4 linked regions of the Homo sapiens genome follow. The protein of the gene in region 2 purifies or fractionates together with the protein of the main gene of each other region. This does not show direct contact. Each region holds a gene or a part of one and is shown on either strand. Other genes may lie near its edges.

Region 1 (7,034 bases), on a different chromosome or scaffold from region 2:
CTGCTCACAGTTATCACTGTCTTGCAGAGCCCAGGAATTCCACTCCCAAGACACACACCACAAGTTGAAGAAAACGAAGAGGCAAAGATATACGAGTCGTTATTTTGGCCACCCTTTGTGCCATTAAAATCTCATTTTCTGCCTATTAGAATGCCCTCTTGGTGCTTAGGCAGCGGTGATAGTCAGTGATTAGTGTGTAATTGAGTATAATTGTCTTTTCACTTTTCATTTGTGTCATTCTGAGCTTCTCTCTGTTTTTCTAACCACCAAGAGGAAAAAGGGGGTTGAGAACAGATAAAGCTGTTCAAACTCTCTGAAGAGATTCTCGATTGCAATTATAGATTGCAACCCCTTGTGACATTTCTCCAAATTTAGTGGGCAGCTATCCTTGCCACCTGGGCCAAGCACTCTCTAATAAAATCAAGGGATCTGTATTTAAACAACTGCTAATAATGTCAACCTCAGACAGATGCCACATGTAGGAAATTTAACCAACCCTCTCACATGCAATTATCAAGGCAATTTATTAATGTGATCTCCTAAGAAAAGCTCATAGTCCAATGCAAATTAGAAAAACAATTACAACATTCAAATATTTATATAGTCCCAAAGAGCAGTAATTCCCCTAATTTGTGCATTTATAACTCGTTTATTCCAGAGTTCGTAGTCATCAGCTGGGTCTCTCTCCACAGGACTTGTTTGCTTCCTCTCTGATTGTTTTGTCAAAGCTTTAGTGTTTTCTTATGAGGTGCTTTTGATTGAAACCTCATCAATTTAAAACCTTATCAATTGATTGAAACCTTATCAATTTTAAATACAATTTAAAACAAAAAAACAAAACAAAAAACCTGCCACTGTTTGCAAGCTTCTTAACCAAAGCCCAGAACTAGGATGGAGAAGACAAAACATGGCAAACACCTTCACAGCTAAATATGAACACAAAGTCTCCAAGATTATATCAAAAATCACTTGAATTTTAAGTCTAAGCTACAACTTTTGATGAAGCCAGTAGGAAGGGTGGAGAGAAAGGAAACCAGAAAACTGAAATCATGTGGCTTCTATAAAGAATACATTATGGTTTAAATTTGGCAATTCATTACACTACTGCCTCAGGGAATTGAATATTTGGTTCTGGTATACAGCAAATCGTCTGTCTAGAAACACGGGACTGACCTGAGGTGAGAGGCCATTGCCAATGGTGGGGTTCATGGGGTTGGAGGGCCCCGACGGAGGCACAAAGCTGTCTGTATAGCTGGAAAATCCATGCCTGGTGCTGGGGAGGCAGTAGGCAGAGCTGCTGTCTGGGTTGGAAGGAATCGTGCTTTGGTGTACAGTGCTTGGAGGAAGCGGTTGAGGTCTGTGAACGGTGCTGCTGGGATCTGACACAGCTGAAATGAAAAAGATTGTCAACCATCATGTTTTCTTTTAGGCCAGCAGAGAAAGTTCAGTGCAAAAGTTCATCAGCCACCAGGCCATCAGGAGCATCTATTGATCAAATCAAATGTTCACTTCAAACTGCGTTTCTTAACCTGCAGGTGTAGAATCACCCATAACAGATACAGTCACACCTATCTCTGCACATACTTGTAAGTAACATATATACTCTCACGGCAGGCTCACCCAGAATACTAATGCAGAAATCATATTAGCAATGCTAACAAGCATATTTTGGTAGTGAATGTTATTCATCAATATGAGAATTAACCAATATAAGGACTGCAAGTCTCAAATTTCTTATCAAATATACTTTTAAAGCACCTAAATATTTGTGTAATAATATAGTTTCAAATGCCTGGAATGTTCTTTCATAATCCAAAATAATCGGATCTTACAATTTAACATTATCCCATTCACCTCTGTGTGCTAACAAATAATGACTTTGTCAAAGCTTACCTTCCCTCTATTATTCCTACAGTTAGTAAGCATCATTGAATTCCAGTTAGTTGCAAACTGGAGTAAAACGTAGAGGTAAAATTTTAACAAAAGAAAAGCAAATCCCATGGTTATTTGGGAAGGTTAATTTGTTTTAAAATACTGCAATTGAATTATATTACAGCACAGTTTATCTAGAGATATTCTGATACATCATAGAACAAACTATGTTTCTGAAATGTGATAGGTACGTTCAGGACAACCTGATGTATTACAATTAACAACATGGTGTCAGTACTGCAGAAGGATTCACTTGTATAAAATATCCACCAGAGAAATCGCCTGGAAGTTACTTTCTAATCTCCTTGACTCTTCCTCGGTACCTTGTGGAATAGATGTGGGCTGGTAAGAGGTCTCCGACAGCTGGTACGTTGGCAAGGTCGGCATGGCAGTGGGAGGGAACCCCCCGGGAATGAGATGGTTGAAAGCCATCAGTTGATTGGCCCCAGCTTGCTTCCTCCATCTTGCACGGCGGTTGCTAAACCAGACCTATGGATTTAATTTAAAATTTAAGGATTTCACTGATGAAATAATAGTACATTCTTAATGAATTTTTTATGCTAAAACAGATTAGAGGCTTCTTACTGAAAGGGCAAATAGATGCAAGAGTTCTCTGCCTTCTGTGTTGTTTGGGCGAATTGTCAGGAGTAAAAGAAGAGTTTAGTGTCAAAGGTCAGTAGAGGGGCTTCAGGGACCCACCATGATCTTGCAACAACAGCCCCCATGAACCTTATGAGGACCATGGGCAGGAATCACTGAGCAGGAGTAGGAACAACAGGAACTCCCCTCCCTACCCTCAACATCCACCCACCTACGTGTAGACAGCCTTCTGGGGAGGATACATGAGCCTCTGTGACCCCTGCATGACGCATGTCCTAAATGTGGCCTTGCCTTTTACTCCAAGCCTTGTATTTTATATTCTTATTAGTCTGTCTCTGTATTTCTGTGGTCACTAGGGGTATAGCTTCTGGATGGTCATATAAATTGAACAGAGGATAAGTGGAGCCCTTTTTTCATCTCTTCCAAAATATGAAACATTGCACTGATCTCGGTGGAAATAAATGCCAAAGAGGTAAGTGTTTCAAGAAATGAAAGCCTTTTTTTATCTAAAATAATTCATTTGTGTCTTATTTATTTCAACAACAGCTTTAAGCTCCTAGAACACGCTGTGTCAAGCACTATGCTAACCAGGTACATTCAGAAAAGCCTGATACAATATAATAAAATGCCCTCAAATAATTCAAAGCCCAAGTATTTTGTATGAGTCAATGGAGAGAAAGGGCAGTCATGGCAGCAAGAAATGTAACTGAATATCTAAACTATTGAGAAATTGTGATATAAGGCCTTTCATGGGTCCTGTGCTCCTGCCCAACTCTTACATCTGCAAAGTTTAAATGTAGAACTTGGGGTGATTTTTCCACGGAGCACACATGATGTTTCCCCTAAAATGAGAGAGGATTTCTACCAACTAAAGATATTCTAATTCCTACATCAAAAGTTCATTGAAACTTTTTTTTTTTTTTTTGAGACAGTCTTGCTCTGTCGCCCAGTCTGGAGTGCAATGGCGGGATCTCAGTTCAACCCAACCTCCGCCTCCCAGGTTCAAGGGATTCTCTTGCCTCAGCCTCCCCAGTAGCTATGATTACAGGCACCCGCCACCATGCCCAGCTAATTTTTGTATTCTTAGTAGAGACGGGGTTTCACCATGTGGGTCTTGAACTCCTAAGCTCAGGTGATCCACCCGCCTCGACCTCCCAAAGTGCTGGGATTACAGGCGTGAGCCACCCATTGAAACTTAATATGGAGGAAAGCACTGTGTTTGGGGTTGGAAGGATATAAAGGGAATCAAGTAGGATCTCTGCACTCTGGTAGTTTGATGCCTTGTCCTCATGGGATTCACAGAGCAGTCAAGGAGACCAAAATAATTGCTCGCTAGAGGTAGAAACTTCACATTTGGAAGCACAGAGAATCAGGAAAACTCTAAAGTGGAAGCAAAAAGTTTCAGCTCATTTTAAAATTTGATTCTAATTTCGACGAGCGATCGCTTGAGATGGAAGTGACATCCATCCTGTCCTACAGGGCAGGCAGATGCAGCTTGTTACAGGAGGCCAGCTTAAGAGAAGATGAGAATTGATTTCCTTACAGAGCAATGTTAACAATTTTGCAACTTAATTGTAATTCTTAAAGTCAGATCATTTAAGAGCGGAGGAAAAGATTTTTCTGGAGAAGAAGCTCAATTTAATAAATCCTTTGCCGAGGGATTTGCTCAAACTTTTGGTACTCACCCAAGCATTTGTCTGAAAAGAGTTTTGTCTTCTCTCGCCATTGTTGCAAGATACTGGTAAGGAAAGCTGTTTGAACTTCCTCAAAACATCAACATTTAATACTCCTTAAGTTTCCAACAGGAAAACGAGGTAAGTTAATATTTTCCCATGTTGATACATAATTGAATTAGAGTTTTACTTAACTTAATAAATTGCCACCTGGGGTAATAGAACCATGAACAGCACTTAATTTCAGGTCTGCATTAACTGTGCTTTCTCACTGCCCCGGTCTGAGTGCCTGTTACCACGGCTCCCAAAGGCATCAGGGTAAGAAAATCATTTTCAAGAAAGTTCTGGGAACAAACTGTGTTAGCTTGGGGAGGCTGAAGGTGGGAAATTAGGGTCATGTTCATGCCTGAGTGCACTGTACCATAACACACACTGTGGTTGTAGTTTATATTATAATACGTCAAGACTAAGGAGGTACTCCCGGCTCAGATCAGGTAGTCCTCTGCAACTATCTAGACCAGCGATGTACAGTGCATCTCCAGCTTTATATTGCTGGGAGGAGAACTGGACTTCCAAAAGTTTTGATGTAACTTCACTCATGAAGATTTACTATGCTCAGTTCCACTGGTGAAACCCTTTATGAAGAACTCAGAAAGGTACGCTTCGGTTTTTGTCAGATTTGTTGGCAATCTCTCTGTGCCACCTGCCTTCTGTAACCTTTAGATAAGTAAACCCAGGAGTGGTGAAGCCTGATCTCTCCATCAATCTCAAGTTACTATTGACTCAAGGTTCATTCTAACTCCACCATAACCCAATTTTTAAAAACAAAAATGTCTTTGCTGAGATAATAAAGAAGAAACATCATGAGTTTCTACAAATACCTTCAAAAGACAGAATCCAAACAGAGTAAGAGTATAAGGGTTTGGGGGTTTGTTTTCATATTTTCTAAAATGATATAAATAGGTAACAAAGACATTGAGTAAACTCACCAGGAGTTGGATTAAAAAGTCCTTATATTTATTATACAGTATCTATTATATCCACAATAAAAAATGAAGAGAAATTGTTGTGAAGCAAATCTTTACTGAAAAACAAACCTTCAGCAAGAGGTTCAAGAGATTCCCAAAGGAAGGAATTTAAATGTTGTTTAAATTTAGGCTAAATAAATCCAGAGGGCTATTCCTAAGAGAACCAGGGCTTAGTGAGGACTGGCCTGCCTGTCTCTGGTCATTTAACCTGATTTTTTATCATCTTACCATTGCCAGCCTTCTGCATTTCCTAGAACCAGCTGAATTTGCCAAAAGAAGTATTAAAGGAAAAACACACTAACTTTGCAAATTAAGAACTGGTCTTTGCCTTCTTTATGTTTTGAAACTCAAAACAGACAAATTTTCTATTTTTAGTAGACTAAAAAGAGTACCCTAGAAATGACCTTTACTTTCAATACCTGAACGAACCAAGCGTAGTGATCCTAGGAGGCTGTTATCAGCCCACATTTAACTGAAATTTTCTTGATACTCCTAAGTCTTAGATAACTCTTTCAATATTGTATCACTAATTCCTAACATACAATCAATGAATAATCTGCAGAATGGCATGTGTGAGTGTATAACACTGAATAAATTCATCTAAAATATACATATTTATAACTTAGTAGTTACACTTTCTAGAAATTTCCCCTTGTTTTGAAAAGAATAGCAGTAGCAACAGAGGCAAACTGGCCTATGACTGATGTTCTAGGAGAGAACAGAAATTTACCACCCAATGTCTTTGCCAGTAGGGTGGAAAGAACAAGATTTACAAAGTTGGCTATACACCTTTAAATGAAATTATATGATCTACAATTCAATGTAATTTTACTATCCCCACACAAGATTACCTGGCCTTCCGCATCACACTTGGCATGTTAAGGAAGTGGGGGCAGGAGGCACAAATTTGTCAGTAACCTACTATACTATTAGACACAGTTAATTGTCTATCATTGCATGTATAATATTACATCAAAAGTCTCCCTCAAAGCAAGTTGTTATTTCATTTGATAAACTGCAGCCCGGTTCATTTTTATCTGCCGCCTGTACTTCCCAACTTGTATGTCTCTCTACTGAGTCCTTCCATAAAGCCATATTTCATGTCTTTGAAAAATGATCTTTACATGCATTTCTCTAGTAGTATAATGTCCAATGATTTTTTGAAACAAAATTTAAATTGGTTGAAAGAGCCCCATAACATCATGATAACTAGGAAAAAAAGATAATAATTAGAAAAGAAATTTTCATACTTTTTATGAGTAAGCAAACCAGTTTGTTCAGACTCTCAACATTACAAGTTGGCGGGTGGCGGGGAAACTAGTACTTTCTACAGTAAAGATACAACAATACATCTTATTCACATGTGTGCAATACAGACCAGGCAAAAGTTGAATCTCAGCTCCTCATTTATATTAATACTTCTGTGACCATGAACAATTTGCTTAATATCTGGGGGTCTCTGTTTTCCCATGTGCTAAACGGGGAATATAAAAACTACTTCACAAGATTGTTGTGACTATTAAAAATGCAATGCAATCTAAGCTTCTAAAAGAATACCAAGGAGATATTAAATGTTCAGTAAATGCTAGCTATTAAATAGAAAGTCTCACACTGACACTTCTATCTGAGAAAACCAAGAATTGAAGCTCTGTTTTGCTTCCTTCACTCTGTGGTGTCCAGCCAAAGCCTTTTGTGTCTGTGAGTAAACAGGAAAGTGCCCAGAAAACACCTCAAATAATTGAAAGCCGGTTTGACTTGAATGGAGGCTTAGGTCAAATTTGCTTCCAAGTTTCATGGATTA
Region 2 (3,785 bases):
ATTAGGTTGGTGAAAAAGTAATTGCATTTTTTGCCATAAAAGCAGTGGCAAAACTGCTATTACTTTGCACCAGCCTATATTACTTTCATTTTTTTGTATCCTAGCATTGAGAAATAGTGATTTTTCACTATAGAATCCCATTGTTTATTATTTATGAGTAAAAGCATTATAAGAAATATTCAAAGCAAGAATACTTGTGAAAAGTATAAAATACCCATTATTTAATTATATTTAAAAGAATTTTTTTAAGTTTAAGATCTTGTAAGTTAAACTTTCTCAATGTCAAATTGCAAACTTCAATATTTAATATATGTGTGATATTGATGACTGCCTCCTCTTCTTTCAGGTATTATTGAATGTTATCAAATAAAAATTCTATTTCTTTCTATGCATATCTGACATTTACATGTGGTGAAAAGGTTACTTGGCCCAAAAAACTTTTCAGAATCAAGTTTAACACATCACATGTTGCTCATCAGCACAAACTTTACAGTCAGGAGTTGCACATAAAGGGTTTATTTTAAATGTTTTAAGGATAAGATAGAGTTACATCATAATTATAAAAATTACTTACAGAATTAACAGATTTATATTGTGTATACTTCTAAATGCAGAGAACAGGGAACTGTCTACACATTGTATAAAATAAAATTAAAATTAAAAATGAATTCAAGCTTGAAAGATGAGGTCATTTACCTAATTTTAAAATGTGAACACGAAGACCTCTGACCTATACACATTCATTCCAACTGCACTAATGATGGAAAAACACAAAGAGCGCAGCATTTCCAAGGAACCACAGACATTTCAACCATAATTATTTTGTTATAATAATTGTTCTGTTTTGTCTTTGGAGAACTTTCATTTTGTTAAGACAATCAGCTTAAGAGTGTTTTCAGGCACTACAATTTGTAACAATCGGAACAGTCTTCTAATGGGTCTACAGTGTTCAGAGATTGAAGCCCAATGCACTTCGTGGTTTGGCACATAAAACAATAAAAGAAATGAAATCTGGTTTAGAAGTAACTGTGATTTTTTTTTAAGAAAACACAGTCCCTTCAAATGCTGCATGACATTTACAACTGGAAAATCACCTTCTGTTGGCACTACATTTGCTTCACCAGTGCATTTTTATCCTAAAACCACTAAAACGGCACAGTAAGCAAATATACAGGAAACTGAAAACAAATAAAAATAAAGAAAACAAAAAAACCTAAATATCTTTAACATGCAATTTTAGTCAGTTACATTGAACATTCTACTTAGAATAGAGCATGCAAAAAAGGATGGTCTGCTTTTAAGATTTTTCTCTGAAGTTTTACGTGGCAGCCTGACATCACACACGCACGCACACACAATACAATAATACTAGAGCAGGTAAATGAGAAAGGCCGATAAATTTTATACATAGATTCATGTCTTGTATTGTCACAAGTCCCATGATACTTTTGGAAATTAATGTTGAATTCCTGGAACAAGGAACCAACATTCAGATACCAGAAAAATGCAAGCAATGCATGCAGATCTGACACATGAGCCTAAAATGAAGCCCAAGATACAAGGGCTTGGGAGCAGAATTAGTCATAGCGTCATTACATGTGGTGTAAGTCACCAAAAGAAAGACAGAATGGGGGAAAATGGGGAGAAAAAAAAACAAACCTTCCCTTTCCCTCAGCCCTAAAGGCAATAAATGAACAATGATTAAACTCATCGTCATCATCACCATCATCATGTTGCATTCATCTAGAAACTGGGAGACCATGTGGTATAAAAAAAGTCATTAAAGTTGCTTGCAGAAAAACCACAATGCAAGTCATTAAGTAATGCTAGAAATGTCTCAATTGACCCAACCCTCAAGATACTTCAAAATGTACTTTATTTTTCCACGCAAAGTTACCGAGCCAAGTTCTGCACAGTTGGTGCATGCTGGACACACTTGCAAACTCTTGCGCTGTAATGTCAGTCTGGACTCTGGGAGCCAGGCTCAGCTTTGAGATTTACATGCAGGGACTCTTAAGAGTCAACAGGAAAACACATAACAGATCTGTAGAATGACACCTGTTCACATACGAGAAGCACCTATGACTTGGGTATCACACTGCTTTCAGAAGCTTGTCCCTGGCTGCCCACAGTGAAGCACGAGGGACAGAGCGACTGCAGCTGTGGACAGAAAACTGAGGTACTGTGTTTACATGGTGAGTGGTCGTTACCATCCAACAGCACAAGGCACAAAAAATGGGCATCAAGCAAACCATGCATAACGAGGCCTGGAAACCATCAAGAACAGCCACAAAAGAGGTCACTCAGACCTCTGATTCAAACTTCTGGTGTTTGAGTGACAAGCATGCACGTTTAGGCTCTGCCCAAATATCAGGGAGGATTTCCAATCTCCACAAGAGACTGGTTTCACATATGGCCTTTCTCCTGGCTGTCAAACCACCAGGGTTCCTCCAAAACAAAATGAGAGCAGCTGTTTTGCTGATCAACCAATCACACTAGCAGTTCTATTTCAGTTTAAAACAACCTTGCAGGAATAAACCACATAAAGACTCCGTGGCTAAGGGCTGCTATTACTTACACCTACCAAGCGAACACAAACGGCTGGCTCTTCTATGGTAACGCTTCACTGGCATGCAAACCCCAAGGGGCCACTGAATGGAATGAATCCACATGAACAGCATACCTGGAGCAGGAACATGCACCCCACAAGAGGTGTCAGGAGACTAAGCTGCTGTTTGTCTAGACATTCTTTGTGAGGAAAAGCCAGGGGTAGGCAGGAAGGGGTGGGTTGAAAGTCTCTGACCATAATCATACATTAGCAATAATAGTAATAAAACTTTAAAAGTCCCAGAGAGCTTGTTAGAAGGCAACAATGCCACTCAAAACTTATACTTCCAATATAAAAGCATTGTATTCTTCCAGAAACTTAACCAAAAACACACAAACCAGTGATGGATTGTTGCCTTTTAAATCCATGTACTGAAATCCAGATTACTGACTTGTACACAATGGACCATATGTGCTGTCCAAAATACACCTACATTACACTGTGTGGAACAAGAACCTGGGCTTTGCAAAAAAGAATTTATGATTAAAATGTAACCCCCCCCCAAAAAAAAATGAAGCTTAGAATTAAAGGTAGCCTTTTACCCAGATTGTTCACCAGATTGTAAAATTCTAATATGGGTCATTAACTGTTCACAAATAATTCATATTTGGACTTATGGTTTAAGGGCTCCAGATTGAAAAGGTGCTCTGAACTTCTGATTTTTTTTTTTTAAACAAGCTGAATGTTCCCATATGGTTCCTGTGCCCAAAGTTTACTTTTAAATAAAGAGCAGTGATATCATATCCATGACTGACTTGGGTAAAGCACTCCTGTTAAACTCAAGAAAATTATGTCACCCCCATCCTAATCCACAAAGACTGCCAGTGGGGTGTGTGTGGTGTGTGGTGTGTGTGTGTACACTTGTATCTGTGTGTATATATTATATATGTATACACACATATAGATATAGGTAGATACAGATACATACATCTCAAAAAAGGCAATAACGAAAACATCAAACTATGCTTGCATTGTGGCGGCAGAATAAGAGAGTTAGGGTGAGGGGGAAAATGGTTAAGATCTATTACAATTTTAAATGACTATGATACTAGCTTAACTTTTACCAAACTTGCCTGTAACTCCCCTCGAAATAGACAGACTTCTTTTAAAAGAAAGGGGTTCTCCTTACACAAAATGCTTTGTGTTCACATCAATCTGTACTATTCAGAACAAAACC
Region 3 (6,922 bases), on a different chromosome or scaffold from region 2:
CCTGTACGTTATCTTCTAGCTCCTACTAACATCTCCAATTAGACAACCGCTTCAAAGGGTGCTTAGCACCAGGGATTGGGGTTCATGGACTTAGGAGGTGGTAAGGAAACTGGCTGGCACCACCAAACTGCCTTAGTGAACTTGGCCCTTCCCAGGCAGGTAGGTTGGGCATTGAGGGAAGGTGGCCCAGTCTTTGCTGGCAGGGTCTGGCCAGTCTCATGGGGGCACCACCAGTTTGGTGACAGAAGTGGTGTCATTTATTGAATTCCACCTCCGTTTAGAAGGAGATCATGGTACAAAGCCCAGGAGGGGCCTTAAGATGTGAAGATCTCTCTGAGTAAAAGGCAAGGGGCTTCTCTTCTTCACCTCTGGGATAGTTGGTAGATCGGAGAGTTTTATTTTCAGGGTCAAGGCTGTGGACTGATGGGGATATTGGAGGGTGGGTGGGTTTTCCTGAGAGACTTTGTATAATGCTGAATGTGTCCAGAGGGACAAGTTTGCAGAACCTCATATTGGTATATTAAAGAAATAATAAAATAAAAAAGCACTTTAGGTTATTTTATCTTTAACCCGATTGCTGCAATTTCTTTTGTGTGTATATATACATATATATACTTTCCACAAAGTTTTATTTTTTGCTCAGAATAAAAAGTTAAATTGAGGTGTGAAAAGAAAAGCACTTACCTTGGTGCAATATGTGTAGCTTGATGGTCGTTGTCCCATGTGGCCCTGGCCTGGCAGCGTTTTTCCGCTCAATCAGCCCTGTGCTGTGAGACTGTCCATAGGGAAACACTATTATGCATTCTCAGCAACCGCTCAATCTATGCAAGCCTTCCCTGTGTGCCCCAGGGCGCCCCCTCAGGCTCTCTGAAGAACTGCTGTGGGTCCTGTTTTCTGCTGACTGTTGAGGCCCTTTTTCATCACTTCTTGGTCTCTCGCCATCTTTTCCCTCTTCACCATTACAAAATGATGCCTGAAAGGAAGGAACAGATTGTTCCTAGGTAGAAACCTGGCACCTTCTAGACTTTTATATTTGTAATCACATCCATTGTCCTTAAAGACTTTTCCAGAGTGATTGAAACCATTGATTTGTGGAACTGCAACAATATTTCTCAAGAGTTTACAATTGTCTTACACCACCAATCAGAAATATGTTTGGGGAGGCATGGGTGGCAGGGGGCAACATGAGCCATTTCCATACTGCTCCCCATACTACCTGTGTTGGTTCCTTAAGCAAAAAGGCCTCCAGCCTTCATTAAATCCTATAAACAAACATTACATCCCATGAATCATTATCAACTTTCTTCCTTTACTCCACCTCCCCCATTTTATCTTCAATTCTCAGGCTATAGAATAGACAAGTTTTAGAATATACTTCAGCCAAAGCAGAAGGATTTTCATAGATCCAATATGCAAATAGTTCTGCTGTGACATAGATCAGAAATTGTCTGTTCCTTAATATTTGGGGGTGGAGGCAACAAAACTGAAGCATATTTCTGATTGGTTAGCCATTTTGGCCTGTTTCCTCTTGCATGTTTTTTAGGGAGAGAGGGAAACAGTCCTGTATTTCTTCTGATGCCCTTTGGGGAAGCCGACGACCACTGGGCATTTCTCACTGTTACTCCTGTTCAAGAGAGGGCTTCTCAGTCTGCACTGAAAAATGCAAATTAAACTGGATCTTTATGTCAATGTGTACATAGTACAAGCTTTTTTACTGGAATTGAGGTTTAAAACCACACACTGCCCTTTTGGTGGTGTGCCTGTTGGGCCAAAAATTGGGTGATAATGTAGTGTCACTTTCTCAGCTCAATGCAGTTTCTACTTTTTCTTATGGGAAAATTTTTCATAAAACCTTTTTGCACCAAAACCCAGGGGTGTTTTTTGCAATATCCTTGTTATCCTCGTAGTGTGCCAAGTCAGAGGCTTTCTCTTGCCCTTTTCCTGCTGTGTTCTCAGGCCTCCCAAGGGCTATTTGACTCAACAGTCTACATCCTTCGTTGTGTTTTGGAGAATGTGGGGGTGGGGGTCAGAGTTCAAGGTGTCTGTTCCCTTTTCCTGTGAACTCTTTCTAGTCCCTATTTGGGGAGGGTGGCTGGAAACAGATTTTTGCTGAATTTCTGGCTCAGATCTTCTAGCCAGGAAAGGCAAGAGCCCCCAAGAGCCCTTTTTTTTGACATACACTAATCATTGGCCGGGGTCTTGGTGACAACTTTTAAAATCCCAAATAGTTTTATTTGGATTATGTAAAAGTAAGTGTGAAACATGGGAACAACGGACTTCCACTGAGCGATGTGAAAACGTTACAGGTTCAGTACTTCCAAAGGAAGAAACCTCCAAACCCAAAAAAGAATAAATATGAATTTGTATTTTTGAAGAATGTGAAATAATGGTGTTTGCTTAATTGCTCATTTTGTATAAACTTAATATTGTACTTTAAAATATCTGCTAAAAAGTGAAAATTTAACTTTTTGGAATTGAAAAAGCAATATTAAATACTAATGAAATCCTAATTAAATGCTTATTTAAATCTGGTAGTATCTGTGGCATTTCTTACCAACCCTGCCCATAGTTGACATTTTTCCACCACTCCCCCCTTCCCAGCCATCAGTCTTGGAGAGGGGACAGAAAGGAAACGTCGGTCACCAGGAGAGTCTGCAGGTTTCCTTTTAATCAAGGCTCTACTGAAGGTGTTTTGTGGGGCTAAAAGCCCCCAAAACATGAAATGGACATGTAACACCACCTGGATCCCCCATAGCAGGCCAGACCACTCTGGCGAGCACTGCTGGTCTGCCCAAATCTGGGTAATCAGACTGGGTATTCATTGGCTGCATTTCAAAGCACAGCACTGCTTTCAGCCAGGATGAAGTGGGAGTGAACCCAGCTGCTAGCAGAGCTGCCACTCCAGGCTGAGAGCCAAGTACCAGCCACTGCCAGTGAAGACTGGCCCCTTTACTGAAGGGAGTTGTTCAGAGTCCAGCCACCGGCCCTGGGGAGGGAGAGAAGTCAGGGTATTCTGCTCGGGGATGGTCAGGGCTCCGCAGCTCCATCGCCAGCATCCTTTGGAAAGCCGCCTCTGGCGGAGACAGCCGGCTGGGGGGGCGCTCCAGGTTTGGCTGAGACGTTCTAGTTGGAACAGAAAGGAAAAAAGTGAGGCTGGGAGGCAAGGCCTTGGATTAGGCCCCACAAGGATGTGGCCATTTGGCATTTGGATAGTATTAACTTTTTCGAAACCTCTCACCAGATCAAAGGAGGTTAGGGATAAAGCGGCGGAGACATACTTCCCCCCTCCAGGGTAAGCTAGGGCTTGGCCAGCCTAGCCAGTGGGCAGACCCCACCCCACCCCAGCCCAGCCCAGGGTGGGCACTAACCCCGCCACCAGCCGGCTCCGGGCGCCGGCGGCCCAGCTGCCGTAACATCTCCTCGCAGGCTGCGATGGTGTCCAGGAGCTGCCGCTGCCGCTGCTCCACCGCGTCCAGCAGCTGCTGGGCGCGCTCCTCCCGGGGCGGCTGTGGGGGTGGCCTCCCGCCGAGCCCCAGCCCCGCCTTCCCGCGGTCCACGCCGGCAGCCTCCCTGCCCGGGAGAGAGCGAGAGACAGACGGTCAGGGCCGGCGCTTGCGCGGGGCCAAGCCCCTTCCTCCCGCCCCGACGGGCCCCCTCTCACCCCCGTGACCAGTCTGAGCCCGGGCCCCATTCCATCTCCGCTTGCGCGGCCCGACCACCGCCCCCCTTTCGGCCGCCCCCCTCCCCAGCGCTGCGTTAGGGCTTCGCAAGGCTGCGCCCCGCCCCGTCCCCACCGGTCTCCTTCAATCCTCCTGGGGGTCGTGGTCCCTTTAAGCTGCCCGGCGCAGAGGCGGGGCCGAGTCTCCTGGACCGGAAGCTGGCTGGGAGCGTCACTTCCTCCCGGAAGCGGGCCTGGGCGGATGTCTCCGGCGCGTCGGTGCAGGGGGATGAGGGCCGCGGTGGCTGCCAGCGTGGGGTTGAGCGAGGGGCCTGCTGGCTCCCGGAGCGGTCGCCTCTTCCGCCCGCCGAGTCCCGCTCCGGCGGCCCCCGGCGCCCGGCTGTTGCGGCTCCCGGGGAGCGGGGCCGTGCAGGCCGCGAGCCCGGAGCGCGCCGGCTGGACCGAGGCGCTGCGGGCCGCCGTGGCCGAGCTGCGCGCCGGCGCCGTGGTGGCCGTCCCCACCGATACGCTGTACGGCCTGGCCTGCGCGGCGAGCTGCTCGGCGGCTCTGCGCGCTGTGTACCGCCTCAAGGGTCGCAGCGAGGCCAAGCCTCTGGCCGTATGCCTCGGCCGCGTGGCCGACGTCTACAGGTAAGGCCGCCCCGACCCGGCCCCGCTAGGGGCGGCACCGCGGGAGGGGTTTCCGGTGACAGGCTTGGGAGACTGAGGCGCAGAGAGCGGGAGGGGCTTGTCCAGGCTCACCAAGGAATCCGGAACTGGAAATATGTACCGAGGACTTAACGTGCCCCGGGCCCTGAACTACATGCTGCTGGGAAGCAGCAACACACGAGAAAGGCAGGGACCCTGTTCCCTTGGCGTATTTGTGCTAATTGGGGAGGCCCCCGGGAAAAAAGCAAACAAACACAGTAGCTTAATTTAATAGCGAATGCCTTGAAGAAAATAAAACGTGGAGCTTGATCCCACTATCATGATATCACAGCGGTGCAGCTGTTGTAGTCCCTGAGACCAGAGGCACATGGGCGTCAAGCCAGGGGTGCGCCTCTGGAGCCCTGCTTTCTGCTCAAGCTCTTAGGGAGGTGAAGCAGGGAGACAGGCGGCTCCCATTGTAAACTCGAAGGATTCCTTTTCTACGTCTGCCTAGAGTCTAGGAAAGGACCACCAGTGGCCCTTCAATTTTGAATGGATTTATTCTTCTGTGTTTCCCAGATACTGCCGTGTGAGAGTACCTGAGGGGCTCCTGAAAGACCTACTGCCAGGACCAGTGACCCTGGTGATGGAACGCTCGGAGGAGCTCAACAAGGACCTAAACCCTTTTACGCCTGTGAGTCAAGTTTTCTCTTGTGTCCCCAGACTCCAGGCCACTTGGCTTTCACTAGGATCCAGATAAGACTTACCCTCTTATCCCTTCCAACCTTTCTCATGATCCCTTTCCCCTTGCCTTACAGCTTGTAGGCATTCGGATTCCTGATCATGCTTTTATGCAAGACTTGGCTCAGATGTTTGAGGGTCCGCTTGCTCTCACTAGTGCCAACCTCAGCTCCCAGGCCAGTTCTCTGAATGTCGAGGTGAGTTTACCCAGTCCTTCCCCTGGAAATGTCACCAGCGCACATACTGTTTTCTGTGAATCAGTGGCATTGATAGTACACTGGGATGGCCAGGCATGAGAGTTCTTGGGCCAACAGTGGGAAGGTTGCCCAGCTGGCAGGGAGGTGGTGGGGGGCAATATAAATTAAAAAAATTTGAAAGATTTTATCTCAAAGTCTGAAAAGCCAGGGGGAGAATTGGTCTTTTCTTCAGTCTTTATAATAATAGGAAAGATTATAAGAACAATGTCTTCCTGTTTTTCTGGAGATAACAGTTTCTGGAGAACACAGTTAGGCTATAAATCTTCACGACAGTGCTGTAAAGAAAGATGAAGAAGGCCAAGGGCAGTGGCTCATGCCTGTGACCCCAGCACTTTGGGAGGCCCAAGCAGGTGGATCATGTGAGGTCAGGAGTTTGAGACCAGCCTGGCTAACATGGCAAAACTCCATCTCTAATAAAAAATACAAAGATTAGCCAGACATGGTGGCGCATGCCTGTAATCCCAGCTACTTGGGAGGCTGAGGCAGGAGAATCACTTGAACCTGGGAGGCAGAGGTTACAGTGAGCTCAGATTGTGCCACTGTACTCCAGGCAGGGCTCTAGAGCGAGACTCTGTCTCTTAAAAAAAAAAAAAAAGATGAAGTTTAGCCTCCAGAAAGTTAAATCACTTGTTCCAGGTCACACAGCCATTAAGTGACTGACTCAGATTTTTAACCAGTTTTTGATTCTCGCCCCTGTTCTCTTATCTCTGCCACAAGCCAGATCAAAGAAAGGATCATCCTAATCCTTTCTTGGCTACATAGATTAGAACAAAGGAGGACACATAGAAATTTCGTTTTTTTTCTTATTACTAAGATGTAAAACGTAGTAATAAGCTACATTGTGTCCCCAGACTCGGCCAGACACATAGTATCACACATAGTATCCAGCATCAGGCCTTGGGCCTTCCTTGGGCTTATTACATCCAGCTAATAAGCCTGGATAGAGTAACTTGCGTGCAGTCACATAGAGATACGATGGAAAGTCCAGAGTTAGAGCCCGTATCCCTGCTCAGAACTCCATTCGATGGGTTTTCCATTCCCAGACCTAGAGTGGGGCTCAGGGTTCTTAGAAAGTGAGAGTTCAGCATCCCTTCCCATTCTCAGAGTGCAGGTTTGACTTGGTCCTGGTGGCTGTACCCCAGGAGCAAGAATCGGGATGTGGCACAGGGAGGGGAGGTTTTTACCTTGTCAGCAATCATTTGACCTGTCCAACACAGTAACTGGTATTTATGATTTCCTGTCCCAGATTTCCAGGCCTAACTGCCACTGCAGTGTCTTCCTTGGGGGGTTGGGGAAGCTCTAGCTCAGTTAACAATTCAGTCCACTGCTCTAGGGGGAGTATCCTTCTCATAGCCCAAAGACTGAGTGCTGGTGGCATGCAGAATCTACCATGTTCTACTCTTCCTACCCTGATCAGAGTCGCAGTGAGATCCAGGAGCATAGTTCTAGAGCTAGAAGGAGCTGGAATCACTTGTTCCAGGTTACGCAGCCATTAAGTGACCAGATTTTTACCTAGTTTTTTTTTGTTTTGTTTTGTTTGAGACAGTCTCACTCTCTTGCCCAGGCTGGAGTGCAGTGGCACCATCTCAGCTCACTGCAACCTCCATCTCCCGGGTTC
Region 4 (7,583 bases), about 56 Mb from region 2:
ATGCACAGTAAGAACTCAACAATGTTCTCTATGTTACGTGAACACGAAGTGAATTTCGGTAGCTCATCACCCATAACTGATTATATGGGTCCAGACAGAGGATAGTTTATAACAACAAAATAATCATCATACTTAATATAATTATTATACTTAATATTTCTAGGCAAAGTGACTAAAAAGGGTTCACGAATAGATGAAATAGAAAGATCACCCAAGTATTAAAAATAAACTGGTTCCTACCTCTTGCCACCTTAAAGAAATCACTGTACCTCTCTGAACTGCATTTAATCAACTCCAAAAGAAGATACAAAAGTCACAGGATCTCAGTAGATCCTATCAAATTTATCCAGATCCTATCAAATTTAATCCAATTCCAGCAAAAAGAATTGGCTGGGAACCGTTCGCCTCTAAAACCACTCATTCCAGACAAGTATGATTGATTTTAGCTGATTGTATAGCTTTCTTTGCATTTCATGGACAAAACCCAGAAAGCTCTCACCACTATTAACTTAAATCTTGGGCAGCTGTTTCTTAATTTATCTTAAATAATCTTGAAAATTACCTATCAAAAGGTCTACTCCGTTTTCCTCTTAAATCACTATGTGGCTCATCTCAGCACTGCCCCCTTCCAGCCTACAATCAGCAACCCATGAGGAAAGCTGCAGTAAATGGATGGATGAACAAGTCACGGGCAATTTCTGCTCAGAATGTTTAACACAACACAGACAAGTCCCAACTCCCAAAGCCACGGTGATAGTCGTTTACTTTGGTTCAGAACTGCCACTAGACTAAGATAAGCACCATGAGCATTACATAACCACAACGAACTTAAATATTGTTATTCCCATTTTACAGACAGGCTCAGGGATTTAAGGGACCTAGGCAAGGTCACATATCCTGTAAGTGGTGACGCCACGATTCAGTCTCATTGCTTTTTTGCTTTTCCCTGAGACCAAGCTCTTTCCAGTACACGGCCAGGCTCGCGCCCCTCGGGAGCGCTTGTGGGAAGCGCAACCCTCGCCTGCCCGCACCAATCCACAGGTGCGCGCAGGAGCCGCTCGGGGGCCCTGGCCCTGGCCCGCCGAGGCCCGGACAGCCCCGCAGGCCATGACCGCAACCCTCGGGTCCCGAGGCGCCGCTCCAGGCGGGAGCGCCAACTCCCACGGCCCTTCCGACCCCCGCGTCCCATTGTTCCGAATCTCACTCACCTCGGAGGATGCCGGCGCAGGCCTGGCTGGGGCGCTCGCCGCGAGCTCCCGGCAGCCCAGAAAGCTAGGTCGGTGTCGGCAGGATCCGCGAAGGCGTACCCGGCGACTTCTCCGCCTACCCTCCGAAGCGGGAGCAGGCGGGGGCGCTTCACCCTCCTCGCGAGACAGCGGAGACCCCAGCGGCGGCTGCGACCCCTGTGACGCAAAGGGCTCATCACCAATGGCAGCTCGGAAGCAGGGCAGAGAGCGAGACCCACCCCCCAGCTCCCGCGCATCAAAACACAACACCCGCCTTCCTCACGCATGCGCAGCAGATGGACGCCGGCCTCGGGGGCGGGGCTCAGCGCACCGGCCCAAATGCGGCCCCTCCCCCGCCGCTCCAGACCCCGGAGGAGGGCAGCGCGACCCTCCCCATCTTGTTACTGGTACTCAGCCACTGGGGACACTGACTGAATGTTCGCCCCTAACTTACCCGGAAAACACGAGAACTAGTTCGATGTCGTTTCAACCTTACCAAACTCTGCGGAAACTTAGGAAATTATCTTTAGTGTCTAGATAGGGGAATTGTTAGATGGACTTGAAGTCTCTCACCTCCTGTTGTACGCCTCCCGGAAGCAACACCAGGAGTCCAACGGGATCCCAAACCAGAGCCCAACCAGTATCCTATAAAGTCTTCAGAGAGGGATCCCCTCCAGGCTGGGGAGAAACAGGACAACCTAACAAAACAGGGCCTGGACTCCTCCCTAAACAGACCACGTTTTTCTCCGCTCTTCCCCTTCCCACTCCCTGAAATCTAGACTAAAACTCTTTTAAGATAACTGCGAGGTATAAAGAACGTCTAGAGCCTAAGCGGCCCGTTGCCAGATTCTACTCCTCAGGCCTCAAATGTGAGCGCCCCAAACATTCTAGAGCTGAACCTGGTACGCTCGCCCACCAAACTGCCGTGCTCGGGGCTTAGTATCTCACGCGCGGCAGTTCAAGAACATCAGACACGCTCAACAAACACTTGTTGCTTGACTGATACATTATGGCGGGTAACGCGTCCCACGTATTTCTTCTTAGAGATATACATTACGCTATACGTTTCTGAAGAATGGCTCGATTTACAGGGGTTCCCACAACGATTTGTCACATATAAAAGAGTGGGTGGTATTTTTACGTCAAAGATGAACAGGCGAACGTCCATCTAAATCGTGTGGTATCAGATGCGGGGAGGCGTGGGGGAGGGAGCGGGGGAGAAAGCGTTAATTCTTCCAGCTTTAGAGCCAGACGTAATATTTAAAACGTGGATTGTTTTTCAAATTAACTTTTAAATGGACACGACAGCACCTTATCCTGCATTAATATTGCATTGCAACTAGAAAGAAAACCAGTGGAGGTACGCCTATCTCCTTAGTTGGCAAAAAAAAAAAAAAAAAAGCAATTTTTAACATTTTCTCGTTTATTCCCCTCTCTAAAAGGCGGGCAAGGCCCCCGATCACGTGATACCGCCCCCCAACTCCGGGCGGAAGAGGCCAGCGACAGCGCTGCACGAAGCGAGTGGGCGGGCGCTCGTGCCCGGCTAAAAGATGGCTGCTGGCGCCTGGCAGCCACCGCCTGGGAGGTTACTGTAAGGCCCGCAGCTCCCGCCAGCTCCCGCGGACTGCTGCCGCCTCCTTACCATGAAGCCAGTAAGTCGTCGCACGCTGGACTGGATTTATTCAGTGGTAAGTCCCGGGGATCGCGGGCCCCCACCGTGTCGACTCACTGGGCCCGCAGGCGGAAAGGCCCTATTTCTTCAGCACCCAGAAACTCCAAAATCCATTCCTGAATTAAGCATTTCACTCCCTCACCTCGACTCCGCCTCTTCCTGGAGGATACGATCTTCCGCTTCTTACGTAAGGGCTGCTGGGTGTACCCGCCACTGGAACCCCATTTATTCGACTTTGTTACTTTAATTCCCACCTTAGCAATGGCAACGGTAACCTGACGGGGGCGAGGGGAAATATCAGGTAGATTTCACACCTCCTTTGCGATTTTTGGTTTAGTTGCTGCTTGCCATCGTTTTAATCTCCTGGGGCTGCATCATCTATGCTTCGATGGTGTCTGCAAGACGACAGCTAAGGAAGAAATACCCAGACAAAATCTTTGGGACGAATGAAAATTTGTAACTCTTCTGGATTTAATTATCTGAAAATACAGTTCTTTCCCTCATGCTTATGTAGATATAAAAATAAAATTCATAATGCAAAGTTCCCAAGTTTATTTTTGCATTATCCTTTATAACAAGCACTAGTATGCAAATTTTTCACTTAGAGATTTTAGTATTTTACATTCTCATGACAAAATTAACAGCAACCTAAATCTGACAGTCTTGAGTGTCAGATCATAGTTGGAATAAGCTTTTCAATCAAGTTTCTAAATTCTTCAAAAATGATTCGGAAAGCTTTTTTTTTTTTTGAGACGGAGTCTTGCTCTGTCGCCCAGGCTCAGTGGCACTATCTCGGCTTACTGCAAGCTCCGCCTTCTGGGTTCACACCAATCTCGTGCCTCAGCCTCCGCAGTAGCTGGGACTACAGGAGCCCGCCACCACGCCCGGCTAATTTTTTTGTATTTTTAGTAGGGACGGGGTTTCACTGTGTTAGCCATGATGGTCTCGATCTCCTGACTTCGTGATCTGCCCGCCTCGGCCTCCCAAAGTGCTGGGATTACAGGCATGAGCCACTGCGCCTGGCCGGAAAGATTTCCTTAAAACAAAAGTGCATGGAATTGCTGTTCTTACATTTGTTTATTGTGATATTTCACTGTTGCATACCCTGATACCAAATTAGTGTAAGTACTGTGTAAGAAAAAAACAAACAAACATGTAACTAAATACTTTTCCATACCGTTTTCCAAGTCAAGAATGACCAGAAAAAGTAGGTAGTCTCTCATATTTGTTTAGCATGTCCACTTTTTACTTATTGTTAAATTACTCAGTCTCAAATTGTACAATGCTTGAAAACAGATATGACAATTTCTGAGATTAAACTTTATTAAAGTTACTTTTCCAGAAAATTCAGTAAATATGGTAATATAGGAACAAACTTAGGCTCATAAGCCTTTTAACTTTTTACATAATCTTTAATGATGTTGATCAGGAAATTCTTTCATTGGTGGAATTACTTCTCCAGTCTCCAGAATTGTATCACCCTAGGAAAACAAAGATACAGTTAGTACAAAAATCTTAAGTCTACAGAGGTGATAGTTCTATTCTGTTCTATGTTCATCAGATCTCACATGGAAAATGTACTTGAGTTCTGGCATTCCCTTTAAAAGGACCCTAGACAAAGTAGAAGCTGACTAAATCTGAACAATCAGTATTCAAAATTTTAAGGTATAGTGAAATAATAGGGAAATTTTCACTCAGAAACAAAATAATCAAAAAGGGCACGAAAATTGTGTTCTCTAAGTGATAAAGGGATAATCTTTTATTTTGTATGACCCCAATAAATGGAGGCCCCAGAAAGAAGTTGCAAGGAAACATCTGCAGTTCCAGATAAGGAGGTAATGTACCCCCAGCAACTGAATGTGTTACGCAATCACCAGTTTTCTGATTGGCTTACATACTGAATACAGAATACAAACTTTGGCTAGGCAGCTGGTCCAGATGTCTTTTCAATTCTTGATATAGATGTGGGCAAAAAGGCATGGGCATTGAAGCCAGAACCAAGTGGTAAGAATCTTGGAACCTCCACTGACAAGCTGTATAGTTTTAAGACAGATTATTCAATTTCAGTTTCAGCCATGTGTTTAAGATAGATTCTGTTAGCCTGCCAGTCCCTGAATGACTGGGAAGAGTAGAATTGTCCCCATACCCACCCCAATCCCTGCCATTCCCTGACCTGGTACTGCTCAGGATTATAGTCCAATGAAAAAATAAATATGTTTATGCCATTATACATTTGGGCAACAATTTGTTAGTACAGCTAGCATTATCCCAATAGAAATCATTGCCTTGAAGTGGCACTAATGCTGCTGTAATAAAAATCAAGCTATAGGGCACTGGCTTAGCAGTCTGGTAGCAAAGATAAAGATGGAAACAAAAGGCAGTGGCAAACTATTTAGCAAAATATCTCCTATAACTTGGAAGCTGACTGCCTAATGAACTTGAGGTTCTAGAAGAAGTAGCTGGGAAAAAAAGTTATAGTATGTGTTTGGATCCTTGGGATCCTTGGATGCCTTGGGAATGTACTTTAAGAAGCATGAGCTCAGGCAAAAAGTGGCTGATTTGAGAGGCGACATAAAAATGGAGAGGACGAGAGAACACTTTGGTGCACGCTAGAGACTTTCTGTTCCTGACCAAAAAAAAAAAAAGTTAATAGAATCTAAAAATTTGGGCCAGTCATGGTGGCTCATGCCTGTAATCCCAGCACTTTGGGAGTCCAAGGCAGGAGGATTGCTTGAGGCCCAGAGTTCAAAACCAGCCTGAGCAAGAGTAGGACCCTGTATCTAAAAAATAAATAAAAAATCAGGACCTTGTGGTATTGAAAAATCACACTACTTCAGAATTCCTAAACAATAAGTTAACACAAGAAATCTGAGCAACAGAAGCCCAATAAAACTCAAACAGAGGGACACAGCCCTATGGCAAAGATCAGTTTAAAATGAAGGTAGCCTTTGAACCAGTCTGCCTCAGATGGCCTCCACATAGCTGCCACAGAGGTGAGAGAGGCAGATGCATAAGGACAAAGAAATGAGACAAGCTGGTAACTGTGTATAGGAAAAACAGATACTGGCATGAGACACTGACTAGAAGTAAACACATTAGATGTCTACCAAATATTTTTCTTTTCATGCTTCTAAATGTTAAGGGAAATGGATGGACAAACCAAACATATAGTTTACAGAATCCTGCCAGAATGTTTGAAATTAAAACAACCTCTGGCATTCAACCTCCTGCAAGCAGGTGGCAGATTCTGAAGCCCATACAGCCCCCTAAGGAGGGCATGCTTCCCAATACCATTTAGATGTGGTCTAGGTAGATAATGAAAAGAACAAACCCCCTGGACAGAGCCAGGAACCAGGAAGAACGATGGATAAAGGTGTTCTTTCAAGAAAACAAAATCAGTGCCCATTCAAGTAATTTCTCACACACGGGTTAGGAGTGAGATTTCAGGATTGCCAAGAACCAGTGACTACTATGCTATCCAAATTCTACCACTGAACAATGGGTGTGGTTGGGGGACAAGGATACAGTTAACTTGTCTTCTTAGTTCACTGATCCTCAGATCAACAGAAGTCATATATAAACCTGACATACTATTTTACATCATCTGGAGATCATGGATTTGGGGCCGGGGTGCAATGATGGAATGGGACTTTGGGATTTCTCCCTAAGGAGAGAGACTAAGTGTGTTATGCATGGGTAAAGAAAGAAGCCAAGAGCTGTTTGGTGACTAGAAAGATGGAATGTAGCAGAAACTCCATGAACAGGGGTCTGGGAAATAGCAAAGAGCACACAGATAATATTTGGGAAGATGACAGTGAGTTTTAGCTAACAGAATTTGAGCAGAAGTGATGTAAGCTACTTCTAAGCTTAGATCCTAAAAATCATCCCCTGAGACATCCTGCCGTATCTTTGTATCACAATCTTGGAACCTCATATTCGATAGGCACGGCTGTAAGATTGAGGAAGATCACCTGATTCACAGTAGTCTGTGATGTCAACAAGAAATAAACCTCTGTTTTGTTAAGCCATTGAGATTTGGAAGTTTGTTATTACTTGTCCTATTCTAAACATATATACAATGAGCATTCTTCAGTTCCTCAAAGGGGTCATGGCACAGAAACAAGAAAGAACCACAGTGGCAAAAAATACAGAAATATGAGAAATGCTACAGGATCCCTGATATGGTCTTCTGAATAGAGCTCTCCTTTTCCTTTGAACAGTAAATGGCAAAATAAATTAACATTTAAATGGAATAAATGGAAGACTAAATAAATATAAATTGCCCAGCTGGAAAAACCAGCAAGATAATTTCCTATTTTGAGACTACCTAGGCTGTAACACACATCAATGTTACACAATAAAACAAAAGGAGAAATCCCCTACTTTTTTTTTTTTTTTTTTTTTTTTTTGAGGCAGGGTGCTCTGTCGCTAAGGCTGGAGTGCAGTGGCGCAATCTTGGCTCACTGCAACCTCTGCCTCCCAGGTTCAGGCAATTCTTGTGCCTCAGCCTCCCCGGTAGCTAGGATTACAGGCGTGCACCACCATGCCCAGCTAATTTTTGTATTTTTATTAATAGTAGAGATGGAGTTTCACCATGTTGGCCAGGCTGGTCTCAAAATCCTGACCTCAGGTGATCCACCTGCCTCTGCCTCCCAAAGTGCTGGCATTACAGGTGTTAGCCACCG

Evidence for each region.
Region 1: the proteins of SPIN1 (region 2) and PAX3 purify together in Homo sapiens (affinity purification with mass spectrometry; 3 studies listed by BioGRID and IntAct, with this or other methods). This does not show direct contact.
Region 3: the proteins of SPIN1 (region 2) and YRDC purify together in Homo sapiens (affinity purification with mass spectrometry; 3 studies listed by BioGRID and IntAct, with this or other methods). This does not show direct contact.
Region 4: the proteins of SPIN1 (region 2) and TOPORS purify together in Homo sapiens (affinity purification with mass spectrometry; 4 studies listed by BioGRID and IntAct, with this or other methods). This does not show direct contact.

What each region holds. Positions count from the first base shown.
Region 1 is NC_000002.12:222,218,967-222,226,000, forward strand, and holds part of PAX3 (paired box protein Pax-3), read right to left. Parts: intron 6,455-7,034; exon of another isoform or gene 2,422-6,454; coding exon 2,256-2,421; exon of another isoform or gene 2,120-2,255; intron 1,587-2,119; exon of another isoform or gene 1,430-1,586; intron 1,389-1,429; coding exon 1,174-1,388; intron 1-1,173. UniProt on the Homo sapiens protein: Transcription factor that may regulate cell proliferation, migration and apoptosis. Involved in neural development and myogenesis. Transcriptional activator of MITF, acting synergistically with SOX10.
Region 2 is NC_000009.12:88,475,410-88,479,194, reverse strand, and holds the end of SPIN1 (spindlin-1), read right to left. Parts: 3' UTR 501-3,785; downstream 1-500. UniProt on the Homo sapiens protein: Chromatin reader that specifically recognizes and binds histone H3 both trimethylated at 'Lys-4' and 'Lys-9' (H3K4me3K9me3) and is involved in piRNA-mediated retrotransposon silencing during spermatogenesis.
Region 3 is NC_000001.11:37,805,179-37,812,100, reverse strand, and holds the start of YRDC (threonylcarbamoyl-AMP synthase precursor), read left to right. Parts: upstream 1-3,892; 5' UTR 3,893-3,920; coding exon 3,921-4,309; exon of another isoform or gene 4,310-4,311; intron 4,312-4,885; coding exon 4,886-5,000; intron 5,001-5,124; coding exon 5,125-5,244; intron 5,245-6,922. Other genes in the region: uncharacterized protein C1orf122, read right to left, coding at 3,028-3,123, 3,369-3,570, 3,662-3,696. UniProt on the Homo sapiens protein: Cytoplasmic and mitochondrial threonylcarbamoyl-AMP synthase required for the formation of a threonylcarbamoyl group on adenosine at position 37 (t(6)A37) in tRNAs that read codons beginning with adenine.
Region 4 is NC_000009.12:32,549,566-32,557,148, forward strand, and holds the start of TOPORS (E3 ubiquitin-protein ligase Topors), read right to left. Parts: upstream 3,022-7,583; 5' UTR 2,915-3,021; coding exon of another isoform or gene 2,872-2,914; coding exon 2,869-2,871; exon of another isoform or gene 2,669-2,868; intron 2,243-2,668; exon of another isoform or gene 1,579-2,242; intron 1,404-1,578; coding exon 1,209-1,403; intron 1-1,208. Other genes in the region: SMIM27 (small integral membrane protein 27), read left to right, coding at 2,870-2,914, 3,236-3,358; NDUFB6 (NADH dehydrogenase [ubiquinone] 1 beta subcomplex subunit 6), read right to left, coding at 4,311-4,379. UniProt on the Homo sapiens protein: Functions as an E3 ubiquitin-protein ligase and as an E3 SUMO1-protein ligase. Probable tumor suppressor involved in cell growth, cell proliferation and apoptosis that regulates p53/TP53 stability through ubiquitin-dependent degradation.